Linked DNA regions of Homo sapiens: all the other regions are linked to region 2. The links come from fine-mapping of genetic effects on gene expression. A gene starts in region 2. Each other region holds a variant in brackets. All regions are shown on one strand. Distances are from middle to middle. Region 1 overlaps IL16 (interleukin 16). Region 2 holds the start of IL16 (interleukin 16). Region 3 overlaps IL16 (interleukin 16).

Region 1 (7,378 bases), 100 kb before region 2:
GCCCTGGGATCAGCCACCTCTCCATGCACAGTGGAAATAATGAAAGCTCCAGGTGAGAGCTCTTGTAACCCACATTGTTTACAATGGACAGCATCCCACAACAGACACATGCCAGGACAGCAGCACATGGAATGTGGAAACAGCACTGAACTTGAACTTGGAGACAGAAAACCCAGGTTCTGTAACCTTGATTGAGCCTTACCTTTCTCATTTATAAAATGACAAAAGAAGATGCAAGAAGTCAATCTACTGAAAGTGGTTCACAAGCTAAAAGGCTCTCTTCAAATGGAAGGTCTTACTGTGGTCAAGTGCTACAGTGTCCCACCATCACAGGACGCAACCTGGGTCTGATGTGAGCAGGCTACTCAAGCTACTTCCCCTCTGGCCCAACTAAGGTGGCCACACAGCCATAATAAGCCATTGGTTACTGCAGATGCTTACAAAGGAAACCTACCTTTAATGTTGCTTCATCCAGAACCTTCACCTCCTCGATGAGTTTTTTTAATTCTTCTGAGCTCAGCAGGGAGATAACGGACTGACCAGACTGAAGGGAACTGTGGTCCCCATCATCGTCTTCCTTGGCTTCCGTGAGACCCTCTGTATATTCTCTCAGCTCTGAAAGGCTTTCATAAGGAGAAACAACACACAGTATGAACAACAATATTAAAAAGAGGTAACAGTGATTGTATAATTACTATGTCCCAGGTGTGGTGCCAAGCACTTATGTGCATATTATTTGATGCAACAAATCTATGAGTAGATACTAGCATACCTTCACTCTACAGATATTTCCCAGCAGTGTAAGAATAATAAATAAAACTAATAAATGCAGAGCTACTTTGATCAGAGGGAAGACCAAGCCCCAGCCCTACAGCAGGGACCCTATGGCACGTCTGACATCCTCTTGGTTCTGCATAGAAGGTCTCATCCATCTCCTAATTTCAACTGACAAGGAATCTGAGGGTGAGCATGGAAAGAACCTGCTCATAGTCAGAATCAGTGCCTAAGCTGAGACTAGGACCCAGACATCCTAACTCCCTGACGAGGGAGTTGAACCCACGTGCAGAGTACAAGTGGATTCCATTTGGAGAGTAAGAATTCCTGATGGATAATTTCCTGGCCTCATTCTGGTCTTTCTGAGTAACCGCAGGACATTTCAGATGTGCATCAACCTTCCAAATCTCCACAGGCGTATGTCAGCCCTCATGAGCAATTCACCAGGGAGCCAGTCCCACCTCCTACCTCCCAGCCCTCCTGAAGCCAGATGTTGTGAAAACTCCTCCTTAATGTGAAAGGCAGAGGTGTAATACCTACAGACAGACACACACACACTCAGACATCTGCACACACATGGAAAGAAAGAGGCAGAACAATTCTTTAATCAATATATCTGGGAATTTTTTAAATTATATATAGGATTATTTTTAAAAATAAAGATGAGAAAGAAAAAGATGAGAAAGGTAAAGAGAAACACCGGGTGTAGAAACTCACTTGAGCGAGAACCCTGTGTCCAAGGCAGATGTTTCAGCAGAACCATTTGCAGCTGAGTCTTCGTTGGATGATGATGTTGGAGATGCCCCTTCCTTGGGGATGCAGGGAGTCTGGGCACAGGAGATAGAAGATGGAAGGCACAGCAAGGATTTCATGACAGCCGATGACACTTGGCTGCTGATAGAATAGAGTTTGCTGGTCTTTTCGTCAAGTAGCTTCGTCTCACAGGACTGGGACCTGGTCAGGGGGAAGCTCCGTGCTCGCTGGCTAGGCATCTTGAGCACTGGGCCTTGAGATTCCTCAGCCTGTGTTGACAGCAGCCTTAGGAGCGGGTCCGGGCCAGGGGGGAGAGTTTTCTGATTGGGCTGCCGCCCTGGGGGAGGGGACTCAGACACACCTGGGTCTCTGGCCTCGGAGGCTGCAGGGGACCCCGAGGACAGTACTTGCTCAGGCTGCTGGGGCACAAGAGTGGGTGCAGCCCCTCGCCCCAAGAGTCCAGAAAACCGTCCTTCCTCATGCTTCCCAAGAGGTTTTGCTGCCTCCCCAGAGGAGGGCTGGAGGCTCAGTCTCTGGGCTCCTTTGTCAGGCAGTTGAGAGGAGCCAAAGGTTTCAAAGGAGCTGATTCTCTGCCTGATGGAGGAGGAGGAGGAGGAGGCCCGGATGTGTGATCCTAGGTGCTCCCTGGAAGCAGGTGCTGGCTGGGTGGACAAGGCAGGATCAGGGAGCCCTCTTGGGTCTGAAGCACGATTCCTCAAACCTTTCAAGCTTTGGCGAAACCAGGCTGGCTTGGGAGCCACAGGAGGACCTTTCTTCACAGTGCTGCTGTCTGCTGACTTGTAAACTTTGGGAGTGCCATTGGCGGTGTCCAGCTTTGGTGGGGTCCCATCTGGGTGGCCCTGTGTCCCTTCTTCTTCATTCAGGCTGGCATTGGGCTGTAGAGGCATGTGGCCATGGTTCTCACTCATGATGGGGCTAAATAAGTTTTTGATGCAGTCAGAAATCCTAACCCAAGGGTCTTCGGCTGTGGTATCAAAGCTATAGTCCATCCGAGCCTGCCTCTTAAGCAGTGGGTGTTTTATCGGGGATGTTTGGGTCACTACAGTGCAGAAACAAGGCCAAAGCTGTGCATTACATCATACAGTGACTTTTCTTCCTAAATTCTAGTTTCCAAGCTGAACAGCAAGAAGGATTCAAGAGGAGGAGATTAGCAGAAGTGGGGGACACCCAGGTGGGTGAACTCCAGGTGCTATTACCTGACTGAGCTGCCAACAGGCAGGAGTGAAGGACCAGAAGTAGGAGTTAATCTCACAGTATCCTAGTGTTTTAGGCCTGGAAGGGTGCTCAGAGAATATCTGGGCCGACCTCTGGCATATTACATTTCAAGAAGGGTAAGGGGCCATCTGATGGCAGTGCTCAGGCAAGACCCTGTGTCTCCTGACTCTTGAAGTTCATGTCCTTTCTACTGCACTAAGGAGCCTCCAAGATACCATGTTAAATGTGTAAAAGCCAAAGCAGTTCTCCTGCCGTTTAAACTTTTAAGACAAAGGTCATGAGTTGGCAGCTGTTTGTGCTTTGACCTACCCGTGTCATTAAAAACAAGGTGCCTGTGCACAGCTTCTGATGGGGCCACTTCGGCTTCCCACAGCTCTTCACGCTCCCTCTCACCCAGCCAGCATTTCCCATGTATGTACCTGCCTGGCCCTGAAGCCGTGTGTTTGCTGCTCTGCCTATACACAGGTCATTGATCAGCTTGCTCTCGGCAAAGGAGTGTTTTCCCTCCCTCAAAAGCTGATGAAAAGGTTCCAGGTAGAAAGGAATCTGTGAAGTAGGATTCTCCACCTTGGCTACATACTGGAATCTGGAGGGCCCTGAAAAATACTGACGCCCACCCCTAGGTACTGACTGAAGATACCTGGGATGCAGCCTGGGTGTTGGGAATGTGATGAGCAGGGGATTGCAATGTGCAACCTGCTCTGTGCCAGCCAGGACCTCAGGCATGCCCTGGAGCACATAGGAGTCTTTCTCAGAAGCCAGCATTGAACCAGCATCATATCTGCATGGGTAAGGGAGAGGGTGTCCTGGCTCTCTTTCCCAGGGGCAGAGGGAGGCTGGCCTGTGTGCCTTGGGGGATGCTTGCTACTGGAACGCAACCCAGTTGAAGGAACTCTGATCCCTCCTGTCCCTTGTCTCAATGCCAGGTTTCAAAAGAAGTGAATCATGGAGCATTACACCTTGATGATATCAAAGAGAAATTCTGCACAATCTAAGAGACTGGCCTTGGGCAAGTGAGCCCAGGCCTCCAGCCTGTTTCTGCATTTTTGAATGGCTTGGCTGTAAGGTGCTGTTGTGAGAATCAGGAGGCAGAGGTTCCACAGGCAAGCCCTTTGCAGATTGGAGTGACAACCTCCTGTCAGTTAAACACTGAGGCGTTTGCTTTTGCTAGAATGTTCCTCAATTAGGGTGACTAAGGGAGAGGAGC[C/A]TCCACCCACAGGGCCTCTGCTCTGGGTGAGATGTGCTAGATCTTTCCAAAATGTCCCTTAGCCCTCCAAAAGTCTTTCATGAGCTTTTCTGTAGTGTTACTCAAACAGTCATATGTTTTATAGTCTATATGTTTATTTCCTGCCACTACTAGTTGCTCCTTGGAGGCAGGACCTGACTACCTGGTCTCATCCCTTTCTCTCTCTCCCCCCAGCATCTAGCACAGGGCCTCACGAAGCCAGCATTCAATGTGTGCTTGCTGAATGCATCATATGCTTGGGGTCTACGTGCTCTTCCACACATTGCTGATGAGTGAATCTGGGCTCAGAAAGGCAAAGTAGGTTGCTCAGAATCATACTAATGACAGACAGATCCAGGATTCCCTGACTTCAAGTCCTATGCTCTCTCTAGCAAGCAAATAAATATTCAAGTCATGTCTTAGCATTGTCAGGTGTACCATGTGGACACACCCTTGCTATCCACCTCATGGAGGAGGTGACCACTGGTAGATGCTATTTATACTTTTCTGGCGTTGCATTCTCTGACTCAGAAATCCTGAATGCAGCAGGACTGTTGCAACTGGAATGTTGGCACCCTAGAGGTAGCTGCCCAGGATGGCTGGGTGGGTGTGTCTTTGGACCTCTTCCAAGGGCTCCATCCTCCCAATTATCCAGAATGGCCTGCATTCCTGCTGCCACCCCCACAGCATCACCCGTCCACCCAGGAGGCTCCCCACCCTGGACAGCACCTCCACGGTGCTGCTGCCCAGCACCTGGAACCCTTGACTGTTGATCAGCCAGGTCCAGTGGTGATGTCAATGCAGAGCACTCTGATCCTCAGGCCAATTTGTGCTCTTATCTTATCCCTGCACCTTTTTTCAAAAGACCCTTCCTTTTGGAAGATCTCAATGAAAGCTTACCTGGGCTGGCTCTTCTCCACCCTGGCTCGCCCTCTGTGGAGGACTTGGTCTGTGGGCCGATACCAGGTCCTGGGCAGCCGGCAGAGGCACTAGGGCTTCTCCCTGCTGTGTCTTCCTGTGGTAGCAGCAGTGGCAGCAGCTCTCTCGCTTCCTGTGGTGTAAACAGGAAGCGAGACCATGTCAAAACGGTAGCCTCAAGCTGTGAGAAGGCGAGACACGCTTTGATTGGGACGGAAAAACGGATATTGAGCTGCTTTCAGTGAGAAGTTCATCAGCAGCCATGTAAAGAGGATTCTTTTCTCCTTGGTGCTGACGTGGCAGAGCCAGCACCTCCTAGACATGCAGAGCATCCCTTGACTTCCAGCAACCTGGTATCCAGGTCATGGGCTCATACTGTTGACATACTTGAAGACCCTGACTCTTTATGATAGGAACAAAAGGCTTTGAGTGTGGAGGGACTGGCATTGCTTCAGTTACAACTGCATCTGGTGAACTACCCACCCCGGGAGGGTATAGGGCAGCGTAGAAACAAGGCAGCAAAAAAACCTGGCAGCTAGTGTTCCCTAAGGTTAGAGCACTCAGGAAAATGCTTGTCAATTGCTGTCACTTGTTAAGCACTCTTCAAATATTTAGTAAGTGTTCTGCAAAAGATGACAGATACTCAGCACCTGTGCCATTGCTCCCCTCTGTGGCACCTAGGGTGACATCCTCAATCTGTTGCAGAATTGTTTCCACCACTGAGCCTGGATGCAGCCTTGGGGTCCTCCCAAAACAGCCTAGGGACAAGATGAACCAGGCTCTGAATAGCTATGCAATACTTGAAGAGTTTGGATTATCACACAGTGTGCTTAAGGTACTGTCAGGGCCCAGAGGAAACAGAGAGACCAGTTCCATCCCAGAGGTGGAGAAGGCTTCCTAGAGAAGTACTTTCTGTCTGCTTCATAAACAGAGTAAGAATTTTGCAGGCAGAGAGGCAGAAAAATAGTGTTCCAGAGACATAGCCCAACCAAACATAATACCCATCTGGAAAAAAAGATTGAGAAAGCAGACATCATCAAAATGATGCCACCTGTATTTGATTGTCTGCAAGAGAAATGCTTTGCTATACTGCGGTGGCCTCCACGTCCGGTTCATTCCAGATTTGTGTAATGATGGGCCATTTGACATGGCTGCAGGCTTCCTTCCAGAGAGGAAGGAAAGAGGAAGGAACAAATGCATCCTTTGGGACTAAAAAAGCAATGGCAAATATCCATGACCTGAAATTTAAGATCTACATTGACAATAAACATTTTGGAGGAAGCAAAGGTCTACAAAAGTTAGAAGTGTATTCACAGAGCATTGCCTCAGCTCGAGTTCCCTACTGTAGAACTGAGCTTTAGGAGAGCATTATGAAATACTGAGAGATCAACCAATTTCAAAGGAATCATTGAGCTTCTCGAACTAGCCCTTAAAAAAAGTAAGGCTGAGTCATGGCATTAGAAGCTCCAAATATTGGCCTGATGATCTCTAAGTCTCTTGTCCACAAGAGAAATTACATGGGGATGAAATTTAATTTCACCTGGTTGGGAGCTCTGTAAGTTGACATCTGTTGACATTCATGAATTGTTAGCTCTTTTACAGGCAGCCACATGTGATACCAACTGCAGTCAATGCAGCTTTACAACTTAGAACAGCACAAATGTGTTTTGTCTTTTCATCAACACATCCAATATTGCATCCTCTTCATGGGAGACTTCAGAATTAGCCCCTGAAATAAATTTGATTTTACACAAATTTTTCTCTTACTAGTGTTTCCTGGAACCATGCTTGGTGGATGAGGGAGGGAGAAGAGAAAGAAGGAAAGAGGGAGAGAGCAGATTCAGCATAGTGGGGAGAAAGTACGTTTTTGTTTGGTTTTTTTGTTTGTTTTCTAAGAAAGGATTCTTCGAAAATCCTGTTGTGTTTTTTTAAGCAAGTTTTTTAAAGCACGGGGGAGAGTTTAGGCTGATTTTTTATAAGAGGGATGTTAGTTTTTTGTTGAAGAAAATATCCCAAAGTTCATATTGGTTGTGAGAGTTAAGTCCCCTTGAATTAGAGTAGATGGGAAAGACTTGGGGGTCATCCATAGCAGCTTGACAACAGTCTTGGGACCCTGTAGAGAAAAGACTGCAGGGAGGGAAAAGTGGGAGAGTGAGACAGTGGACACTGTGGCCACGGAAGAAAACATCCAGTGAGAAATCCCCAGGAATGGTCAAGGAAATTTTGAGAGTGACCTCAAGCAAATTGCTTCCTGTTTTCTATTGCGTGCTATGATCCTTTCTCTGTGACCCCCGCCTCTCCAGTGCCCAATAAAATTATGTCGTGCTGATTGCTTTTATGGAAATGTTTGTGGGAGAAGGATCTGCTGGCCACGTGGGACAGACCAGAGCAAACAGAGGAGGGCAGCTGCAGAACGGCCTTGTCTCCAGGAGACGGTGCTGTTGGGGGCAGGTACAGGAGGGAGCCCTGTAT
Region 2 (7,950 bases):
CACACACACACACACAGAGACACACACACACTTTTTATTTTCTGCTTCTGACAACTAGCTCAATGCAGGGGATGCATTGTCCTGCCACTGCTTCAGTAAATGTGACAGGTATCCTGTGTTCTCAGCAACTGCTGCAGGATTCTCTGGCATCTGCACTTTGGCTGGAGTTGGCTACAACCATCCTTGGAGGATGAGGAGAAGGAAGGAAGAGAGGGAAAGCGCATAAGACTGGGCCACCTGTCCACCTTCTCCAACCCTCACCATTGCTCGAGGCTCTCTTAATCCATTTATGAGGAGGTAAGTACAGAAAAAAAGACAGATGAGCTTATGGCTGACTCAGGCCTGAAATCCTTGCCTTGGATAATGGGAAGAAGGCCATCTTTTTGAAAGAGAAGATCAGGAATATTTCAGTTACAATACTCTCCTGACACATTTTCACCATTCCAAACTCCACCCAGTGTTCTACAGGACTATTTATGAAACTTTTAAAATCTTGACCTAGGCTAGGCATGGTGGCTCACGACTTTAATTCCAGCACTTTGGGAGGTTGAGGCGAGCAGATCACTCGAGCTCAAGAGTTTGAGACCAGCCTGGCCAACATGGCAAAACCCCATCTCTAATAAAAATACAAAAAATTATCCAGGTGTGGTGGCGTGTGCCTGTAGTCCCAGCTACTCGGGAGGCTGAAGGGGGAGAATCACCTGAGCTCACGGAGTCAAGGCTGCAGTGAGCCGGGATTGCACTGCTGAACTCCAGCCTGGGCAACAGAGTGAGACCCTGTTTCAAAAAATAAATAGATAAATAAATAAAAATAATTTTTAAAGAATTTTAAAAATTAAAAAAATCTTGACTTACCATAATAATTTACATTTTACATCATAGTACATGGATCACATACACATAAGATTTATATGTATACATAAATAAATAAATATATATAACTAAAAACTTTCATGAAACAATACCTTTACTACGGTATAATAAAAATAATATAAAATATCTTTGGTATGAAAAAGATAATATAAAATATGATTTTGCTAAGAACCTGATGCAATCTGATGTATGCTATTCTTTTTTTGTTTTAGAAAAAGGAAGTTGGTTCCAACCCGCTAAGTTGATTTTCAATCCACTAGTGGGTCATGCTTGAAAACCACTACTTTCAGGTTTTCTCTGATTTTTTACAGCAATTCCATATGGGGTATTTGCTTTGATTCCTCATTTAGCTCCCTTCTTTGGGCCACTGAATCTTGTCATATGTGCATTGATTTTGCCGCATTTGCTCAGCCCTACTCAAGAGGTCTGTGCTTACTCAGATTCGGGAGCTGGGATGAGTTCTGAAATTCCTCGTTGGAATCTTTCATATGCCGATGCCAGACTGCAGAAAGGGCTTAGATTTCCTGTGGCTTTTCTTTGCCAGGTGAGAGGTGCAGTGAGCAGCAGGGAAGGTGCACCATTCCCCAGCATCCAAGTTCTCAGGGGAGCCTTGAACCTTTGGAAGGGATGTTTGTAGGTGACCGCCTCCTATTGGCTGAGCAAGGTAGCCATGTCTTAGCTGCTGTAACTGTCCACTGGAGGAGCATTTCCATCCCAGCTGCACATGCCAAGACTCAGCCAGGGGCAAGACCGATGGAGATCTCCACGCGGGATCCCAGCATCGGGTCACTGTCCAGCATTACCAGTTGCTCCCACTCAAAGCAAACCTCTCCTCCAGCATCTCCAGATGTGGCAAGAACAGCGCCTCCCTCCTGATGGGCTCCGCCCTTCCACCCAACGTCCTTCACATCCACCTGAGACATCCACTGAGACTTCTCAGTGTTTCTGGCACACACTGAGCAACACTGTCTAGTTTACAAGACTGACATAGATTCGTCCTTATTTCAACAGGAATTCAAAAGAAGAACTTGAAGTAAATTCCTGATTTCAAGCTGCCTTCCTAGTTAACCACAACTCCAAGTTCTTGGAACTATTTGTTTATTTTGCCCCATGCCTATTTTCTCCCCGTGTTTATGAGCATATTGCTATTCACAATGAATTGCTTTTTAATAGCAAAACGTAACCTATATATGAAAATGTATTACCAATTCAAATGCACAATAAAAAATATGTATTTTATATATATATATATATATATATATATATATTTTTTTTTTTTGAGATGGAGTCTCCCTCTGTCACCCAGGCTGGAGTGCAGTGGCATGATCTCGGCTCACTGCAGTCTCCGCCTCCCGGGTTCAAGCAATTCTCCTGCCTCAGCCTCTTGAGTAGCTGGGATTACAGGCATGTGCCTCCACGCCTGGCTAATTTTTGTATTTTTAGTAGAAACAGGGTTTCACCATGTTGGCCAGCCTGGTCAGGAACTCCTGACCTCAAGTGATCCGCCCGCCTCGGCCTCTCAAATTGCTGGGATTACAGGCGTGAGCCACTGTACCTGGCCAGTAGATTTCAATTCAAAGTGTACCTCCCTCCCTCTCACTCCTATACCCCTGGGCCACTGCTGGGAACCAGAAAGGGGGAGGGGTTGACAAAAGGGCAGGTCTCAAGGTCCTGGTCTGCCTCTGCCAAAATAATTCTGCCTTAACTGATTATACATGAGTTTTCATGATAGATTTTAATTCTAAAAAGGTTTCCATGAATACAAACAATTAGAAAATAATAATTCTATAGTCAATTGCATCCAACAGAGATTATTTTTTAACCCTATGGATATATGACCATCTTTGTGTTGAGGAAACTCAAGTATTTATTGAGGCATGCCACAAAGCCAGTGAGAGCATGGATTTTGGAGTCAAGCTGGGTTTGGGTCCTGGGAACGTCTAGCTGAGTGGTCCTGTGCAAGCCTCCTCACCTCTCGGTTTGGGGATATACTCCCTAAGCTCCAGGTTGTTGTAAGGTTTAAATTAAATGAGGTATGTGAATATTTTAGCTTGGTGCCTGGGGCTTGAAGAGTGGCCAGGAAATGGTTGGGGTACTAAGTTTTATTTAAAAGACTCACTGGGGATTGAATAAATGAGCAGTAGAGGCTTCAAGGGTCTGACCCACCTGACGGCTCATGCCCACGTCATATCTGCAGCAGGGGAGGTGCCTTCTACTGTGCTCGTAAATGTTGACCATCACTTAACTTCAGGGTAAAGAAGGAGAACAGAGGAGGAAAAAGGCTGAACGGTCTTCTCCTTCCGGGGGAAACTGGAGAAATAGGAAGGGGAGCCACAGAGACGGCAGCTCCCAGGCTGCTTCCAGGAACCCAGTGGGAGCTTGAACTGGCCTCCTGGGACAAAGGGGTCGTCTTTGTATGGCTCAGCCTGAAGTGGGAGGATTTCACCTGATAAGGGCAGGAGGAGAAGATGCTTCCCTGTATTCCACAGGGAACCTCTATTCTTATGCTGTTACCTCATTCTCCAGCTACAGAAAGCAAACTTGCTATGGACCAAAAAAGAAAAAAACAAACAAACAAAAAACAAAAACAAAAAAACACCAATCCTGGGACCTACCAATGCAGGAATTAGTCACGGGACCCTTATCAAAAAGCAAGCAGAGTGAACACTTTTCCCATGGTCAATCTGCAGAGATGCCCACCCGCTGTGCCCACTTTGGAGAAAAGGAGTCTGGCCAGGCAGCAGAGAAGCCCCCATCAGGTGCCCCGTGGCCTTTCTCTCTCCTGCTGCCTTCCTTTCCTCCACCTCCTTCCACACCCCATTGCCAAGGATGAGACGAGGCTGAAAAGTCAGAAATCTCAGGACCAAATTCTCCCCGTGCTGCAGAGCCAGGTCAAGCGATATCCCTCTGCCCGCTCTGGCCTTCTGAAGCTGCTTCCTCCTGTACCTAACTGTGACATGGTGACACAGAGATTCCTACCAACACAATCCTGGCTTCTGCTCCTGCCCCTGACCCCAGCACCACTTCCAAATATGAAGTTACGTCCTAGCAACCAAGACCCTCCCCATTCAGGTCAGAGAGGCCAGCTTCCTCCCTCCGGTAACGGCCACCTGGACAGAGCAGCTGCCTGACAGACATTCACTCACCTGGTGCCCACCTACCTCCCTATGCACAGTCCCCCGGGGCTGCCATCTCCCTTGCTCCTCTCTCCATCTGCCCAGCAGGGATTGCAGCACCACTTATTCCCGGACAGCCTGTGGCCCAGGCCTGGGTCAGAGCCGGCAAGGATTGAGAAATGGACGCTCAGTTCTCAGACGGAGGCCGGCCTTTGAGTCAGATCCCAGGCTCCGATAGTTGAGATGCCGTGAGTAGGACACAATATTCACCACCTGCTCTGGACAGGTGACTCAGGACAAATGTGTCCCACCTGGCATGGATTTGCTCGAAGACTCCTGATCTGAGCCATCTGACTGCTCCACGTGAAAAGGCTTGATCCAAAAAGGGGGGCTGCCAGTGCTGAGAAGCTCAGCCTCAGAACAAGGTCCACCATCTGCTGGGCTGGCCGGCAACACCCAGGAGGCAAACCCAGTGCAGAGCCACAGAACCACAGTGAGGTTCCTTGGTCCAGCCCAGTTGCCCCTGCCTTCTTTGGACAACACAGAAATGACTAGGAGAGCCGAAAGGTAGCAGACATGACTCGGTGCCTGCAATGTGCCTGGCACGCTGCTAGGAGCTTTCTATAAACCTCATCACATGCTGGAAGCTGTGGCACGTGCCTATAATCCCAGCTACTCAGGAGGCTGAGGCAGAAGGATCACTTGAGCCGGGGGATTCAAGACAAGCCCGGGCAAACCATAGCAAGAACTCCTCTCAAATTATATAAAAATTTAATAAAAAGAGGAAAAAAGTCATCACATACAATCCTGCCATCAATCTGGTAAATATATCACCTGCTTTGCAGACAAAGAAAGCCACTGCACAAACGTTCATTAAACACCTACTACGTGCCGTGGAATTTCCCCAAGGTCACACAGTTAGCAAGTTAGCAAGTCAAAATCCACCTGTCTCCAAAGCCCAGGCTTTTTCCATAGCATTTCATTTCTTGTCTGTGCCACCCTTTCCCAAAAACAACAGACTGGCTCTCAGAAGCTTATGTAACTCAGTGGTCCTCAAGCCAGCTGCATCAGCAGCATCTGCTAGAAATGCAAGTTCTCAGGCCCTGGCCTAGACCTCCTGAAGCAGCACCTCTGGCACTCTGTTTTCACAAAGCCTCCAGGTGATTTTGGTGCGTGCTCAGGTGCGAGAGCCCATGACCTAACGTATACAGAGCATGTTGAAAACTGCAGCATAAAAGAATGGGGCACTTTTGTGTGTGTCCTGTTGGCATTAGTGTCATGAGACCAGAGTGCCTTTCCCCCACGTAGCCCCTTGGAGAATCTAATCATAAGGTGGCATTTAATCCATCTGCCCCGCAAAGAGCATCCCACACATCTCTCCTAAGCTCAGTCTCTGTGAGCCCTGTGTACATGCTAGGCTGAGGTTTTTGTATGGACCTCTCTTCTAAAGAATGGAATGTTTCCCAACGCTCAGCACCAAATGTTTCAGGGCTTCCTGGGGGCTTTAATGAGGGTGTAGGTGCAACCTGTAGGAAGCCCTTGAAATTCCATGCAAGGCTGCAAAGATCTAGCCGCTGCTGCTGGAGAACACAGGCCCACGGTCCCAAGGGAAGCACGGGAGGAGGGAGCACTCTGGGGATAAAGCTGCCTTTGTCAGCAGGCACAGGGGACATTGTAGGGCTGAGTCTGGAGTGAGTCTGGAGTGCAGTGAAGGAATTTCTAAATTGCAGAGAGTGAGCGCCTCTGTCAGTGTCGCCTGCTCAGCTCACACCCACAATCTCTCTCACAATGGCCTGGGTGCGGTGGGGCCAGGACAGACTCAGGCCCCACTTCCATCTTGCTCTGGCAGAGAGGCTGAGGAGCAATTCAGCACCCCAGGGCTATGGGGGCTGGCCTTGCCCTTCTTGGATCCTGAGGCCTGGGAGGGCCCCACAGCCCCCCTCCTCCACTAAGTCTAAGCTCTCTCTTGTCATCGGCACCTGAATCCAGTTCCCGCCTCTCCCTCTATTTTCCGAAGATCTGTTCTTTCTCACTCTCAGAAGGTAAATTTATTCCAAAGTGTAGTTGAGACTTGGCCCTGATTTTTCCTAATACGGGGTGGTTTGTGCTTCAAGGTGGAAATTTTATCACCCCTCTGCCCTTCAGGACATCCTGCAGAAAGAGTCTCCACCCTGCCCAACACTCCATAGTCCAGCTCACTGCAAGCCAGAAGAGACGGGGAGGAAGACGCAGGTGAGAGAGCCCCGCCCTGGTTAGAACTAGGAAGTTCAAGCACCACTTGAAGCTCAACCAAGAGCTTCCTGTGTGATCTTGGTCATTCACAGCCTTAGTTTGCTACGATGAAAATTAGATGAAATTAATTGTCTGCCAGATGAAATTAGAAACTTCTACTGCACAGTGTTACTGAGAGAATGAGGCAATAGAGGAGGAAGCATGCTGCCAACAGCTAACCAAGCAGAAGCCTGCTCACCTTTTTGGCCCTTCCAGCCCACGGAACTGAGAAATCTGTTCAACAAGTGATTCTGATGCTTGCTAAAGTTTCATAATCAATAACCTGTATTTCCTTCTAATTCTCCTATTTTTTAATTACAAAATTTTATTTCCAAAAGTAAATTTTTAATTACAAAAATTTTAATTACAAAATTAAAATTATAAATTTTGAAAAATTAATTTAAAAAATTTTAATTTTAAAAATTCTAATTTAATTTTTAAAAATTAAAATTACAATTACAAATTTAAATTTAATTTAAAAAATTAAAATTACAAAAATTTTTAATTTCAAAATTTTAGTTATAAAAGTAATACATGTTTGTTGTGGCAAGTAAACATATTCAGAAGGCAAAAAGAAAGTGTGTCCTTAAAATGACACAACAGGGTCATCTCCTATTCTGTTCAAACAATGGCAAAATAAAGAGCTTAGGGTCAGAGCAATAAGCCCCAGCTTCTGTACTAAGCGGCTCTGTCAACTGCAAGTCCTTTTACCTTACTGAGTCTCAGTTTCCATGTCCACAAAATGGAAACAATAACCCAATAATCTGACAGGGCTGCTCAGAGGTCTGAGCAAAGAGCTGTCCTGCAATCTATAAAATGCCTTGGGAATTCTTTATGCTGTACACTTTTGGTCATGCGAACTGTATTATCATGAGCAGAATATAATTTAACAATTTTAACTAGTAATGTAACAATTTTAACTAGTAATGTAACATGACGCAGAATATAATTTAACAATTTTAACTAGTAATGTAACAATTTTAACTAGTAATGTAATGTTACTAGTAATGTAACCTGACAGTAATGGACATGATGATAATAAATTCTCTCTGCATTTAGCACTTTCAACTTAGACAGAATGTTGAGGCCAAAACTTGATGATTTTATTGTACGTCCCCACTTACGGATGCAAACACTGAGACTCAGAGAAGTTACATGTCCAAAAAGTGCACGTCCAAGGCTGTGCAGTCAGAAGCCATTGGTCCCTTGATTCCCGCTCCCCGGCTCTCTTCCCCTCTTTCCCTGGCCCACAGCAACATATAGATTCAAACCAAGGGTTTTAACTTCATACGAAAATTCTAGCTGACTTCCATGTAGACCATGCTGCCCTCTCTCTGGCCTTTTTTTCTTTCAAACTGTCCATCAGGCTTGCATCCTTTCAAAGTAATATTCCATCACTAAGATACTTACAATCACGACAAGCAACTGAAGCCAGTCCACAAGCAAATATACCACGCACATGCCAACAACTCCCAAATTCACTTCTCCAGGCCTGGACTTCTCCTTGAATTCTGACTCTTTTTTCCTACCACTTGCTTAACATCTTCAGCTGGGGTTTAACTTAAATTTCAAAAGTAACATTGCCTGGCTGTTATTCAGTGAGGCAAAAAAAAGGAACACTGCCAACAGTACTCTTGATTCCCCCCCTAATAAAATGTTTCTTCCCTAAACTTCCACATTTTGGTAATTG
Region 3 (7,950 bases), 110 kb before region 2:
ATATAGACCTTGTATATGGCTTTAATGCCGCAAAATATTTATTTTTCCTTAAAAAAGGTGTCAACTTGGAAATAATGGTTTAAAAACAGGATAAGCATTAAGGAAAAACACTTTCAATGTGTCTTCCATTTGATGAATTTGTTTTTCTCTCTTTATCCCCGCAAGGTGGAGTTTCATGTCCTCGGTGAAACCAGACAGTGTGAATCTGTTCCAGCCCAAATCTGCAGCATTAGGGATGAGTTCTCAGAAGTGATTCTGAACTGAGCACGCACTCATGTCTGCATGGGGAACTCTGGGGAGAAGAGCCTTCCTTTTCTTTCCCTTGGGCATTTGCCTTTCCTTGTCGTCTTACTGAGGCGGAGGCAGGAGGTCTCTGTCTTCCAGGCCCTGGCCAGGCCATCCTGCCATCAGGAAAGATGGAAGAGTAGGCCTCCGTCTAGCAGCCCTGGCTGGAAATCCCCCCTCTAGATCCTGCTGCAAGACTGTACAAACTCACAGGGGCCATGTCCACCCAGGCACATCATCAGAACCAGGGAGCACAGCCTTGCCACCTAGAAGGGGCCTCAGCAGCCGTGCAACTTTCTTTCCCTATCTCCAATCCAGAGAGGGATCCTCTAACATTCTCTAGCAACCTCATCTGCACCCCCACCACCTTCCTTGTAAGAAAGACCACGTGTGACTAAAATCCCTTCACGCTGCATTTACCCAGGTTACTATTGTGCGCGCAAAATGTTTTCACAGTGTTCTCAGCCTTTGCTCCTCCAAACAGAAAACGTTTCCCCTGCGTTACTGTTACTTCCCTATTTTTGAGTCCTGGGGTGACTGTCTCTTAAATGTGCCAAGATGTGAGCAAGCTTTAAAACATGACAGCTCAGTGTTAAGGAGACAGAAAGCTTCCTCTTTCTCTGTTCTATTGCAACTACAAATTCTACAGTCATGCCTAAGATCCTTTAGCTAACACCCTTTTCAAGAAATCATCAGACTCTTGGATTGACTTAGAATTCATTCATTCATTAAGTGCTTACCGAGTCCCCGCTCTGTGGCAAGCACTGTTCTATATCAACTTCTCATGAGTTCAGCCAATTCTAGGTGCACCAGCCAAGGAAACTTCATGCCTGCCCTCTCTGAGCTCCATACTCTGAGGTGGTGGTCTTATCAAGATGGGATCGCCTTGTACATCCCTGTGTAGCCAAGTGGAAGGCCAGCCAACCAAGAATGCATCTCACTGGGCCTATGGGACATACTGTGCCTGCACTGCTCCTCCACGTGACTGCATCAGGTTAAACTGGTCAGAGCCCTGGATGAGGAGCTGGAAAACATGCATCCAGTCCAAGCTCTGCCACTTGGGCCAAGTGTGCTCTTGAACAGTCACTTAATATATCTGCTTTGATTTGTCTTTTAAAGAAAATATGGAGGCAGGAATACCAGTGTCAGTGTAGCCTGCTTCTTGAGTGTTGGCACAAGTGAGATAATGTATGAATCAGTAAAATGCTGGGCAAAGCAAAGAAGTAGGGCTGCCTGGGAGTGGATTCCTTTTTATGGTGAGTTAAGACGACTTCACAATTGTTAGCTGTGATGCCTGCAGTGTTTGAGGATGGCATTGCCTTCATCCTGTGTCAGCTCTGAAGAAGTTGGCAGAGCAAAGCTAAGCCTCAAGTGTAAATCCCAGCATCATGGAACGCAAATGGATGAGCTTTTGTTTTAGGATCTTCTTGCTGATTCCTACCCAGAGGACTTCCCCAGCCTAGAGACCAGAAACCTGGGCAATAGTTATATCTTCAGTGGCCCTAGGAGTTGTTGTGTCTCCTTGGGGAGGAGAGAACCTTCTAAAACAGGCCAGAGACAGGAGGTACTGGGAGGGCCATGGGCTCACCTGCATCTATGCCCAGATAACCTGGGACAGATAACCTCTGTCCCAATCACTTGCTTTGCCTGGTCTCTCAAGGAGTCTCTTGGTACCCCAGGCCCACGGCCAGCTCCATGCTCATCCCTGTCCCCACCTTCCAGTCTTGATGAAAACCCACCTTCTCTTTCATCCCTTGGCTGCTTGATAAGACTTAAAACAATTCCCTGATTTTAGGGAAGGCCACTGCGTGCACAGATGGTGAGTTTGTGCAGGCAAGGAATGTGCCCTCCACATCACGTGGCCTCCTTGCCCAGCCTGGGTCATGGGAAGGGAGTGTTGAATTGAATCACGTCTTTCGTTGGTAGATTATGTTCATCTTCAATGTTTCTATTAAGTCTAAAAAGTGGATACAAATGGTGCCTCCAAGTTCTTGTCTAATTGCTTGTCTACTGCTTGACAAAATCCAGAATGGAATAGGCCAAACAAGTTAACCAGCAGGACAGAAACTGCTCTAAGCCCATTATTCCTTGAGATGAATAGAACAGTGAGCTGAACGCCTGCTCTAATGAAGCCACTAAAGGGGTTTACAGGAAGGTTAGGAGCCCAGATGGGTTTTGAGTCCACTGCTGGGAAACAGATTCTTCACTTCCTGTGGACCCTGGAGAAGCCATCAGATTACATTAACATGGCTCCACTGATGATGGCCTGAGAATTACTATTGTTTGTGTTTCATCTGTGTCCTTGCCAGGTCTTCCCCCACATCCTTACTTCACAGGATCAGGGGCTGAGAGGAGACCAATACTCTGGCCCAGGCCTGGTCAAGGGATGCTGGTTGTTGCTGATGCAAAGTCACATTGCCTGGTCCTGAGCTTGGCAATCAGGCATCCAGAGATGGCCAAACCAAATATCCCTTTGGCCAGGCACTCAGGCATTCCCTGTAATGTTGTGCACTTAAAGCATCTTGGGCTGATAGTCTCCACCGAATCACAGAAGAAAACTCAATCTGCCGCATCACTCACCAGCTGGATAAGCCATTTACTGTACACAGTGTGTGCCCTCTTATCAATACATTGGCACAGAACCATACACCGTAGAAGCTGCTGTGATCACTAAAGGCAATGCCCGTTTAGCCCTGAGCACAGTGCTTGGCATGTGGTAGGTAAGTAGTAGCAATTTTATTTGATACCCTCATATACACGCTGGTTCCTTCTGTCGGCACACCTGTCCACGCTTTGAGCTTGGTGCTTCACCTGTACTCCTCTGTTTACTGGCTCCACCACCCTTCCCTAGGATTACTTCTCCAATCCAACCAAAAACAATTTTGCAAATGTTTCATGTGACAAACTGTATTTTTCATAAATGACCCCAGCAATATTTCCTCTCCCCTTAAACCCAGGCAGGTTTGTGTCAGCTCTAACTGATGGAGTATGGTGGAGGTGATGCCATGCAACTTCCAAGGCAAAGGTATAAACAAGATGCAGCTTCTACATGGCTCTTGCGATCCTGGGATGCTCATCCTGGGAATCCAGACACCATGTTGTGAGGAGGCCCAGGCCACAAGGAGAGGCCACCTATAAGCATTCAGGCCAGCAGCCCCAGGTGAGTTCCCAGCCAACATCAACGGCCAGATGTATGAGTGAATGATCTCACGTGGTCCCAGCCTTTGCATGACTTTGCATGACGCCAGCTGATGCCAAGTGGGACAGAGATGAGCTGCCCATTCCAATCTCTGCCCACATTGCAGATTCATGAGAAAAATAAATGTCACTGTTTGGGGGTGAATCATGACACAGTTACAGTACTTGAAACATTTTGCGAAGCCAGGCATGAATGTCATATGAAATTCTAATAAATCCATTTTATTTGTGGCACCACAATATTATCATTAAGCTCTCTTTTTACACAGTCTGCAATTTGTATCAGCTGCCCCCGTGTGACTCTGCCCTTATTTTAGGAACAACCTTTTGCTGGGTGGCGTCCTAGAAGGTCTGGGCCTGGGCAGCAGCCACTGGGAAGCCCACCTGTGCTTTCCCCCATCTGGGTGGGGCGGCAGCAGAGACCCTGAGAATCAGCGGTTATGGGAGCTGTGTGTTAGCTGTGTGTTATTGGCTTTGGCTTCAGCATGTCCTGCCTAGGAGTCTCCAGCAGCTGTGGTTTCCTTGGACTGGAGGCTTTTTCTCCTGATGACAATCGTGACAGGTCCATCAGGCAGTGCCTTGATGATGTTCCAGGCTTCAAACCGTGTGAGGCCCTGCATGGCAGTGCCACCCAGCTGTAAGATTTCATCTCCAGGCTGGACTGTCTCACTTTGTTCTGAGGCTGCTCCTGAAATGAGGGAGAAGGTAATGGGTTCCACAGATGATGGGGAACAAGGAAAGTTGCCTCCTCTCCTTGATCTCCAAAGAGCCAGGATAGCTTGGTAGAGAACAGGGCACCATCCCTTGGGAGCTTGCTTGTTGGTGGTTCTAAAATGAGGCATCTCTTAAGATGGTGACTCAGAGGTTAGGGCACCAGGCTCCAGCTCTCCATGGCCTTTGGAAAGGGATAGCCCTTGCTGTCCCCAGGGGAGGGAAATATCAGGCAGCTCCACGCCTTAGCCTGCCTGGAGCACCGTCCATAGTTCATAGAGGACTCTGGGGAGCTGAGTCCTGCCCAGACCCTGCTTTGGACACTGACCCAATATCCTACTCCCTTCACATTTGTTCTCCGCATGTGGTGAGGACATCAGCATTGGGTGGTATGGGAAGAGAGCTAGTGAGATTTTTGTGCAACAATATTTACAGGGATCTTGCCTCTGGCACGAAGTCCTCTGTGTCCAC[A/C]TAAAAAAGGAAACAACCATATATGGCCCCCACTATTTCAAAGCTGCAAGTGAAAACAATGCTATTTTACTGTTTATATTAAAATAAAATTTCCCATCCATTTGACACAGTGATCTTCACAAATCCTGATAAGAGTAGAAGATAATACTAATGATAGTAATGAAAATATAGCTAAAGTGTATTGGGCAATTATTTTAACAGGCGTTGTGCTAATGTTTTGCATTTATGACAGTAATCCTATGAGGGGTGTATTATTTGTGTTTCCTTTTAACAGCTGAGGAAACCAAGAACTCAAGTAACTGGCCCAGAGCTTCATAGCTGCTAGTGGTGGGCCCTGGGCTGGAACCCAGACTTTCTGGCTCCAGAATCTGCATCTCTCCTTCCAACATCACCCTGCAGCTGGCAGTCTCATCCTAAACATTTAAGCAAATGGGCCCATGGTGGTGAAGTGACTTGTCCAAGATCATGCTACCAAGGTCATGTGGCAGAACTAACACTGGAATCTAGTCCTCTTGACATTGAACCCAATGCTCCTTCCAAATTGACCTTCAAAAATTAGAAATATCTTTCCCAGAATTGGGGTTAACATGGATTCTGGGGGGAATGCCATGTAAGCCTCACTCTACCTTCTGGGTTTCTGCAGCCGCAGCAGAACTTCCTCTAACGAAACCAGTCAGCAGCAGGAGCTCATAGTGGGTGAGGGACAGAGCTAAGAGTCCCTTTGGGTCTCAGTCCTAAGAGCCCTCAGACACACACCTGTACCTCTTTACCTCCTTTTATGGATGAAGAGCCTCAGGCCCAGAAGGGAAGGGTCACTCAGCACATTACAGGCAGAGCTGGGACTAGAACCTGGCCCACCTGCCTCCCTGTCCAGTACTCCTCTCTCTACAACCCCTTGCTCTGTGGCTTGGAGACCTCCAATTTGAGGAACACCAAAGAATCAGGGATGGTTTTACATGGTAGCCACAGTCATTCATGATTTTCACAGGGAAATCCAAGTGACCCCCATATCAGACTGGTTTGTACTCCAATCCCTGATGAACAAAATATCTATCAACATTTTAAATAAAGGCAGGAGCTGACGTGTCCAGGACTAGGGTAAGGCAAATGAGGCCAAGTGTGCAGTACAAAGTCAGACTCTGTCTTGATTTAAACTTGGATATTTTGTCCAACATGTTTTTTTAAAATTAATTTTAAAAAACACGCTGCATTAAAATAGTATCGATCTGAGTTACTGAGTGTTTTGGCACCCCTTTAAAATTCTGCCCCACAGGCCAGTGCCTCACTGCCCCACTCTAGAGTCCTGGCCCTGCCAACCCGAACCAAGCCCAGGACTTAGGTATTTTTGAAGACCCATCAAAACAGAGGGGGGATTGAGGGGATGTCTGAGCAAAGGAGAAAAAGTAGAAAAAGCAGAATTGAGCCCTAAAAGGACCAGCATGCCTATGAAGAGGACATGGAGTTGTGGGAAACAACATAGCCCAGAAAGTGCCCAGAAGCCTTTTGGGGGCCTGGCCACATGCCCACAACTGGAGAGCACGCAAAGAACCAGACACACCCCACACCTTTGAAAATCCTGTTAATGGTGAGAGGCTTGTCTCCGTGTAGGGAGCCCTTCCCTCCTTCCAGGCTGAAGCCCAGCCCTGCCGACATCTTCTCCAGTGTCACCGTGCAGACTGTGGCCTCTGCTGCTGAGAAAAACACAAGGTCTCTGTTAGGGATCCTCTCCTCTCCCAGGCCACAGATGCCCTGGGCTTCAAGTGAGCCCGGGGTGATACAGCCCCCGTGTTTGCACACAGGCACATGTAAACACGTCTCAGGCAGTGTACTAGGCAGCCACACATTCTTGGGGTCACAAATTACTGAGTAGCCCCATCAGGTCTGGCCCCAAATGGCCAAAGAGGATGTGGCCCATGTGGCTTCCACTGAGTTGGGAGAACTTACTAGATTCTACAGAAACATCACTGGCTGCAGAGGCTGAGGCTGCAGAGTCAGTGGAGGAGTTGAGGTCGGGCATGGCCTCTGGAGTCAGCTTCCTTGTGACAATCACAGCTTGCCTGGGCTCTCGAGCTTGGCGGAGGATGGCCAAGGCATCATGGTGCGTGGTCCCCTTGAGAGACTTGCCGTTGATGGAAAGAACCTCATTGCCCTTCTGAATAGTCCCTTCCTGGGAGGCCAGCCCATTTGGAAACACTCTGTGAACCTGAGCAAACCAAAGGAAGTCAGGACCAGAAATCACACAAGTCCAGTCCACATACTTGCTGGAGGAGGATTGAACCGGTTAGTCAATGCTAGAGGATTTTTAGGCCAACAAAGATTAAAGATAATTGTGTCCTAGATTGGAGCTGCTGGCACAGAGGCCAGCATTCCCTCCTTCTCCATCCAGAGCAGAGATCACCAGCAGTAATGACCAGGTAAGCCCTCAGAATCCATCCCAACACAACGTCCTATAGTGTACCACCACGATTCTAGTTGGGATTCCATATAAAATCTTTTGCTTCACCTGCCCTAGGTCAGAAGTCCCCAGAGTAGTTTTCTCAAGGCACTGATTCTATGGCATATTAACGGGTATTGTGTAAGAAAAAGGCTTTTCCTATTATTTTTTAAAAAATAGAGACAGGGTCTCCCAGTGTTGCCCAGGATGGTCTCAAACTCCTGGGCTCAAGCAATCCTCTCACCTTGGCCCCGCACAGTGTTGGAATTACAGGTATGAGCCACCACACCCGGCCAAGAAAAATTTTTTAAAATCAAAGAAACTTGAGGAATACTGGGTGAAACAAAAGCTCTGACATTGTCTACTTTTAAAAAGCAAAAGGCATTAGAGGGTCTACAATGCAAATTTGCATGGCAGCAGATTTCTAAGCAAAAGGCATTTAGAGGGTCTACAATGCAAATCTGCATGGCAGATTTCTAAGTATTGGCAGGGTATTATGGGGATTCCCAAAGTGTTTCAACAAAGAATTCTTTTCTCATAGAGAAATTCTCGGTCTCATTTGGCAGAATGCATTTTGAGAAACACTCTCCTAGGCAGTCTAGACATTTTTATAGCTCCTCCCCTAGAAATTCTGACTCTTTACCTCCAGTCACCTCTTGGTCCCCTTTCTGCAAGATATGTGGGATAAACAAACACACAAAAATATCTCATGTCTCTGCCTCAGCCTCTTTAATGAGGTCCATTATAATTAAGAGGACTGAGTGATAGCATGCATGGAAACCACTAAAATGTGGTACCTGTAGTTTTGCTTTTATGATAGGAGCAAAGCTCTTTGCTTCTCTAAATTGTTT

Evidence for each region.
Region 1: its variant is fine-mapped to the expression of IL16 in whole blood (TOPMed, PIP above 0.99). The same link has a PIP of 0.9 or more in blood mononuclear cells and monocytes.
Region 3: its variant is fine-mapped to the expression of IL16 in whole blood (TOPMed, PIP above 0.99).

What each region holds. Positions count from the first base shown.
Region 1 is chr15:81,294,589-81,301,966 of GRCh38, reverse strand. It overlaps IL16 (interleukin 16), which reads right to left. Exons shown (of 19, transcript NM_172217.5): 13 at 4,889-5,039; 14 at 1,492-2,587; 15 at 455-623. Among named protein-coding and RNA genes, the nearest start is that of STARD5, 26 kb to the left of the region's middle. RefSeq lists enhancers at 72-161, 3,227-3,276, 3,450-3,499, 4,205-4,769, 4,770-5,336. The variant C/A (reference allele first, on the strand shown) is at 3,971.
Region 2 is chr15:81,193,222-81,201,171 of GRCh38, reverse strand. IL16 (interleukin 16) reads right to left here and starts at 4,293. Exons shown (of 19, transcript NM_172217.5): 1 at 4,020-4,293.
Region 3 is chr15:81,304,826-81,312,775 of GRCh38, reverse strand. It overlaps IL16 (interleukin 16), which reads right to left. Exons shown (of 19, transcript NM_172217.5): 17 at 6,610-6,868; 18 at 6,231-6,356; 19 at 1-4,171. The coding sequence ends at 3,978. It overlaps STARD5 (StAR related lipid transfer domain containing 5), which reads left to right. Exons shown (of 6, transcript NM_181900.3): 6 at 1-3,723. Among named protein-coding and RNA genes, the nearest start is that of STARD5, 15 kb to the left of the region's middle. RefSeq lists a silencer at 4,045-4,222. The variant A/C (reference allele first, on the strand shown) is at 4,666.